Homo sapiens: one gene and its partner. The protein of the gene in region 1 interacts with the protein of each later gene in a pairwise test. Each region holds a gene or a part of one and is shown on either strand. Other genes may lie near its edges.

Region 1 (3,656 bases):
TCTCAATTGTATTCTATGCTTCTGCTGCATATATGTCCTGACAAATGTGGTATGTTTCATTCACTCAACAAATACTTCTGAAGTGTTAGCTGTATGCCAGGCACTGGTGAGACAATGACTTTGAAGTGGCCCTTCCCTATGGTGATGCCGTATGGGTTCCTATCAATCCCAATATCAAAAACCATAAAATCATAGGGAGAAACATACATTCCACAAAATAAATTACAAAATTTAATTTTATGAAAGGAGACATTTTTCTGAATGACAAAGTAGTACCTATCATAAAATGGTGTAGACACTGTGTCTGCATTTCTACGCATGCCTACTGGTATACTGTCACCCCAGTAAACAGCAAATGGTGACATTTTCATGTGATCTGAGTTTCTTAAATTGAATGCTGGACCATTATAGACCAAAACTATGAAATTAGTTGTTTTCTAATGCAAACACTGTAACTGGCTTTAAATTGCATTGACGTCTCTGAAATGGTCTCTTAGAGATTTGGATTCGTGTGTGTGTGTGTGTGTGTGTGTGTGTGTGTGTGTGTGTGTGTGTGTGTGTGTGTTTTAGTTGTTGGGTGCTAAAACAATATTTGAAATATTATATAACATTTGTATTATCTAAATATCATAGTCCTCTTTGGCTAAAGTTTCTCAACATTTGGGGAGACATTAATATAAATTATATCTAAGAAAAATATAGAATTCCATAACTAAGTGGATAAATCATATTTAGAAACCTTTCCTTTTAAATTTCTACCATTTAAAAAAATTTAAATAAATAAAATTTAGAAGACGTAACTTTACACCAAAGAGAAGGGAGGTTCTTGTTGGGTTTGAAAATACTTGTTCTCACAGTAACATCATAGAGAATGGAATTACTAACAAAAATCACAAGTTTGGGGCTAAATGTAAAAGTATTCAAATTCAAAATGTGAAGTGAAGCCCGTAATTGATTACGGTAACTTTGGGACAGAAGGTTTTGTGTATCTGAAATCTTGTTAGGAAAGGTCACAGGATTTCTTCACCAGACAGTTGGCCATAGATTATTAATATATGTAAACTCAACTCAATCTATGGATATAACTAAACCCAAAGCAAACCATCTTCTTTATGTTTAATTACATTATACCTAATCTGTTACACTATTTTACACTTTACTTATTGAACTACTGAGGTATTAAACATTTTCAGAAACCTATAGCAAATATGGACTGTGAAATCATAACAATTAAGCCACAGGAGGAAAATGCATAAACAATGAATGCCTTTTTTGTCTCTAACATTATTTCATTGACCAATCTGGTAATATTCTCATAAGATTCCCTGCTTAGAAATTGCATTTATAGTATGTCCCTTGTTAAAAACAAAACAAAACAAAACTCAACATTTTAATTTAGAAGACCATAATTTGATCTAACCTTAATACAACTAACAAATAATAAAATTATAATTATCAAAAAGTTAGCAACAGGTATTAATATGTAGTAAGACTCCAATGGGTATGGCCTTAGAAAACCAACACCAAAGAGAAAATATCTTCCAAAAAATAAAAAGTGCTTTGAAGAAAAATGTTCCCTTGTTTTAGTTTAGCCAAAACAGCCAAAACAAACAAGCATGTGGTCTTTGTATGAGCACATGGTAATGACACTAAAACAGTAGCGCACAAAAACAGTGTTTTTTTTTTTTTTTGATGACTATTTGCTGTGGATTATTTTCTGAGACGGTAGACACTTGTTTCCTTACATAGCACCTTGTAAGAAGGAAGGACACTTTTCTTAGAATAACTGATGGATTTCACTATCACACTGGAGCAAAGCAGTTTATTTCTATAGGTGTACATGCATTTCTGCTTTTTATATTATGCATTAACTTGAAAACACATTTTAAGTACCTCACTTTCCATTCCTTATACATACTGTAATTTATTTTAGTTAAAATGTTAGTAAGAAGCCCAGGCACCTGCTGATTAAGCATACATGGCACATAATACCATAGCTCTCATGATCACAGCCCCAAAAAAGTAAATCTCAAGAAACAACTGCATTAGCAGCCATGCCAAAGATTTAGAAAGGTTATTATCCTGTGAACAATTATGGTTCTTGTTTGATTGAAAAATTCATAATAAAAACATAACACTTTTGGGGATACAATGTTCATTATACACCATTGTAGTCAGTGGCTACTTTAGTTTTCATTTTTGTTAAGATTCCAAATAATAAAACTATTTGCAAACTGTTGATTTCCTTGTAAATTCCCCTTTCTTTGGCTAAATCAATATATGTAAATATCTTTGTTCATATATTAGTTAAGCTTTAAAATGAGGTTGTTTATGTTCTTGCATTCTTATAAATAACCCACAAATATGTAATCCCTCTAATTCTCTTAAAAAAAGATATAATTATATTTATTTAGGGAAAGTAAAAAAGGTATAAAATTTGAAAAGTATTTTTATGTCTAAAATTATCTAGTTAGATCACTCTGGTTCAAGGATACTTTCTTTTTTAGCTTGGGCCTATTAACCTTCCTTATTTCACTCCAATCCAAGGGCAATGAGGAGAACCCAGTGTATGGCAAACACTCTCAAGATTTGAGAGCCTATGAAGATGCAGAAAACACAGACTTTGCTTCTTCCCTACAATCAGCTGAATATGTATACTTAATTAATTATTATCAGGTATATATAAACAACAACAGTGACGTATGAAATACCACAGGAGAATTATTTTTAATTGTATCCAATAAATGAAGGCTTCTCAGAGGAGATGGCATTTTCTCTCAGCTTTTCAAAATGAGAATAATTTCATAATTTCAACAGGTGAATGTAGAAGTGAGGAGAAGATGCTAGACACACAGTAAAGCACAAACAAAAGGATAAGGATTTGAAAGCATATGACTAATTTGCGGGGTGTGTGGCATTGTATTGTGTTTGAAATCTGTGGAGGTCGGTGGAGGGTAGATGGAGCTGAATCTGGAAAGGTGGGTTGCAGTCATGCTGCCTACCACACCATTAATAGCCATCTTGCAAATTTCTGTCCTTCACAAGAGTAAGTCAACTGGTATAAACATCACTCTTCTATAGGGGTAGGGGTGATGGAGATAGGAAAGAGTGTGGGTGTAGGGCTCCAACTCAATAATCTTTACATTAAATAAATTACTACTTAATAAAGGATTTTTTAAAACCCTACATTTCAAAAATGTGTATTACCCTTCCCCAAAACACAAAATGTGGAGCTATTCTTTATTCTGTTTTCAAGCATATCACACTATATTCTACTTGACAATGTGCTTAAAATTTCTATGCCTCTTTTTTTTCTCCCAATGGGACAATATTTTTTCCACCTCAAGGTCTCTGCACACACATTGCTTTTTCTACCTGCTCTTAAAATCTCTGCATCCTTCTTACCTGTCATCTCTCAACCTGTGGATCCCAGTGTTGCCCACCCTGACTACTTTATCTAATTAGATCCCTCTCCCCACCCCTCTCTCCTCCATAATTCTTTATCCCAGCTCTCTTCATGCTTTATAGGACTTTGAATTTTATTATTTCTTATTAATTTGTTCCTTTCCATAGGCAATGACTCTCTACCCCATGTTTGTGAGCTCCATGATGGCAGGAACTTCAACTCTTCTATTCACTGCTGTATGTATATATAA
Region 2 (3,656 bases), on another chromosome or scaffold:
GCTTCTTAGCAAATTCCGCAAGGTCCAGTGACTCAAAATTTCCCTCAAAGTTTCCTACAAGAAGTAATACGTTAAATAAGAAAATATTTACTTTTATACCTAACTAGATTGAGATATTTAAAGAAACAGACATAAATGTAATAAGAAACCTCCAAATATTCTATTTTAAATAGTAAATTTATTCTAAGTTGCAATTTTGGAAAATCAGACTAAAATCAGCAAATACTAATGTCTATATTACAGGGAAAAACCTAGAAAATCTCAAATTAGTCCTCTAGTTTGTCCTCTCAAATTTAAAAATAACAAAAAAGGCTGGGCGCGGTGGCTCACGCCTGTAATCCCAGCACTTTGGGAGGCCGAGGTGGGCGAATCACCTGAGGTCAGGAGATCGAAACCAGTCTGGCCAAAATGGCAAAACCCCATCTCTACTACAAATACAAAAATTAGCCAGGCGTGGTGGCAGGCACCTGTAATCCCAGCTACTCAGGAGGCTAAGGCAAAAGAATTGCTTGAACCCAGGAAGCAAAGGTTGCAGTGAGCCGAGATAGTGCCGCTGCACTCCAGCCTGGGCAACAGAGCAAGACTCCATCTCAAATAAATAAATAAATCCAAAAAGACCTATAAAAAACTGCCAGTAATGCATCCCAAATGAAACAAATTTGCCCCTTCTCTTCAGAAGTAGCTCAATGCTATTCAGTAATCCACAAATTTTCTAAGTACTACGTGGATCTCCAGTGATAATGAAGATGAGAGGGTAATGTTTAATTGAGCTCTTACTATTTACCAGGCAATGTGCTAAACATTAATCATGTACATCTAATTAATCCACAGAATAAGGTAGGTACTACTTATTAACTCAATTTTATAATTAAGAAATGAAGGCCAGGCATGGTGGCTCACACCTGTAATCCCAGCACTTTGGGAGGCCGGAGGCAGGTGGATCACCTGAGGTCGGGAGTTCAAGACCAACCTGACCAGCATGGAAAAACCCCATCTCTACTAAAAATACAAAATTAGCCGGGGGTGGTGGCACATGCCTGTAATCCTAGCTACTCGGGAGGAGAATCACTTGAACCTGAGGGGCAGAGGTTGCGGTGAGCCAAGATCGCACCACTGCACTCTAGCCTGCGCAACAAGAATGAGACTCCATCTCAAAAAAAAAAAAAAAAAAAAAAAGAAGGCACCAGGCGTGGTGGCTCACGCCTGTAATCCCAACACCTTGGGAGGCCAAGGTGGGCAGATCACCTGAGGTCAGGAGTTTGAGGCCAGCCTGGCCAACATGGTGAAACCTCGTCTCTACTAAAACTACAAAAATTAGCTGGGCATGGTGGCATGCGCCTGTAATCACAGCTACTTGGGAGGCTGAGGCAGGAGAATCACTGGAACCGGGGAGGTGGAGGTGGCAGTGAGCCGAGATCGCGCCACTTCACTCCAGCCTGGGCAACAAGAGTGAAACTCCGTCTCAGAAAAAAAAAAAAAATGAAATGAAGGTTCCAAAGTTAAATGATTTGCCCAAGCATGGAGAAAGACTTAACAAAATGTCAATCCCTTTCTCTGTGGGAAGATAATGTCAGGCTCCCCTACTATACCCAGCCCTGTTTCCCTGGAAACACACCGCACTAAGAAATGTCTGATATGAAATGTCAGCAATGTACTATTCAAAGCTGTTTACTGTAAAATTGACCTCAAATGATCAACTTCATCTGGCATGGAGTGTGTACAATCTTTTCACACATAATGTAACAAACAATAGAAAATGACTACTACCCATGCAAAGGCAAAGCCATATAAAGGAAACAAAATTTGTTTAAATAAAAGAAATAGAAGCAGGCCAGGCACGGTGGCTCACGCCTGTATCCCAGCACTTTGGAAAGCCTGGGGGACGGATCACTTGAAGTCTGGAGTTCAAGACCAGCCTGGCCAACATGGTGAAACCCTGTTTCTACTAAAAATACAAAAATTAGCTGGGCGTGGTGGCATGTGCCTGTAGTCCCAGCTACTCGGGAGGCTGGGACAGGAAAATCACTTGAACGCGGGTAGCGAAGGTTGCAGTGAGCCAAGGATCGCACCACTGCACTCCAGCATGGGTGACACAGCGAGACTCAGTCCCAAAAAGAAAAAAGAAAAAGAAACAGAAACAGAAACAGAACCAGTGATGATCAAGATGCTGAAGTAAGCAAATAACAATGATCAAAAACTGCTCAAAAGATTAAACATATATGTAATTGGAGTTCCAGAAGATTAGAAAGAATGGGATAGAAGTAATATTCAAAGAGGTACACAAAAGTTATTCAGGCCGACAAGAAATGATGCCACATGGAAATATGGAAATGCAGAAAGGAATGAGACACTGGAATGGGCAAATAGGTGGATAAATCTAAATGAATACTTACTGTAAAAAAATAATAATTACAGAAATTTTATACTTTAAAATCAAAGAAAAAAATCAGAATAAAAAGTAGAAAATAGGGGCTGGGCGTGGTGGCTCATGCCTATAATCCAAGCACTTTGGGAGGCCGAGGCGGGTGGATCACCTGAGGTCAGGAGTTCGAGACCAGCCTGGCCAACATGGTAAAACCCCGTCTCTACTAAAAATACCAAAAATTAGCCGGGCATAGTGGCAGGCGCCTGTAATCCCAGCTACTCAGGAGGCTGAGATGGGAGAATTGCTTGAACCTGGGAGGCGGAGGTTGCAGTGAGCCGAGATCAGACCACTGCCCATTTTCCTGGGCAACAAGAGCGAAACTCCATCTCAAAAAAAAAAAAAAAAAAAGTAGAAAATAGGAATAGAAAGGGATTTCTTCAATCTGATATAGGACATCTATGAAAAATATACAACTAACATCATACTTAATGGTGAAATATGGAACACTTTTCTTTCCCTAAAATCTATTCAACTGTTTTTTGTTTTGTTTTGAGACAGGGTCTCACTCTATCACCCACATTGGAGTGCAGTGGCACTATCACAGATTACTGCAACTTCAAACTTCTGGGCTCAAGCAATCCTCCCACCTCAGCCTCCCCAGTAGCTGGACTACAGCTGTGCACCACTATGACCAACTGATTTTTTTTTTTTTTTTTTTTTTTTTGTAGACAGGAGGTCTCACTTTGTTGCCTAGGCTGGTCTGGAACTCCTGGCCCCAAGTGATCCTCCCTCCTTAGCCTCCCAAAGTGCTGGGATTACAAGTGTGAGCCACCTCGCCCAGCACTGTACTGGAGTTCCTAGCCAGTGCAACAAAAGAAAAGAAATAAAAGTCAAAGAGATTAGAAAGGAGGTACAACAATAATTCTGTCTTCATTGGCAGATAATATAACGGTGTATATAGAAAACCCAGAAAAATCTACAAAAAGGTACCAGAAGCAAGGTCACACATTATAAGACCAATATTAAAAAGTCATTTGAATTTTTGTGTATTAGAAATGATGAATTGGAAAACAAAATAATTTTAATTGCAAAAATTATGTTGTAGTAAATTCAATGAAAGATGCACAAGACCTGTTCACTGTAAACTAGAAAACACTGCAAACTACAAAACACTGCCAAGAAATTGAAGATGACCTAAAATAACAGTGATATACTGTTTATGTTTTGCAAGACTCAATATTTTTAAGATGTTCATTCTCTCCATATATTGATCTATATATTCAATACAATC

The links. The genes of interacting proteins can lie anywhere in the genome.
Region 2: the proteins of FGF14 (region 1) and FUNDC2 interact in binary tests that used the Homo sapiens proteins (3 or more experiments, as listed by UniProt).

The regions. Positions count from the first base shown.
Region 1 is NC_000013.11:101,910,329-101,913,984, forward strand, and holds part of FGF14 (fibroblast growth factor 14), read right to left. Parts: intron 1-3,656. UniProt on the Homo sapiens protein: Probably involved in nervous system development and function.
Region 2 is NC_000023.11:155,029,801-155,033,456, reverse strand, and holds part of FUNDC2 (FUN14 domain-containing protein 2), read right to left. Parts: intron 55-3,656; coding exon 1-54. UniProt on the Homo sapiens protein: Binds directly and specifically 1,2-Diacyl-sn-glycero-3-phospho-(1'-myo-inositol-3',4',5'-bisphosphate) (PIP3) leading to the recruitment of PIP3 to mitochondria and may play a role in the regulation of the platelet activation via AKT/GSK3B/cGMP signaling pathways.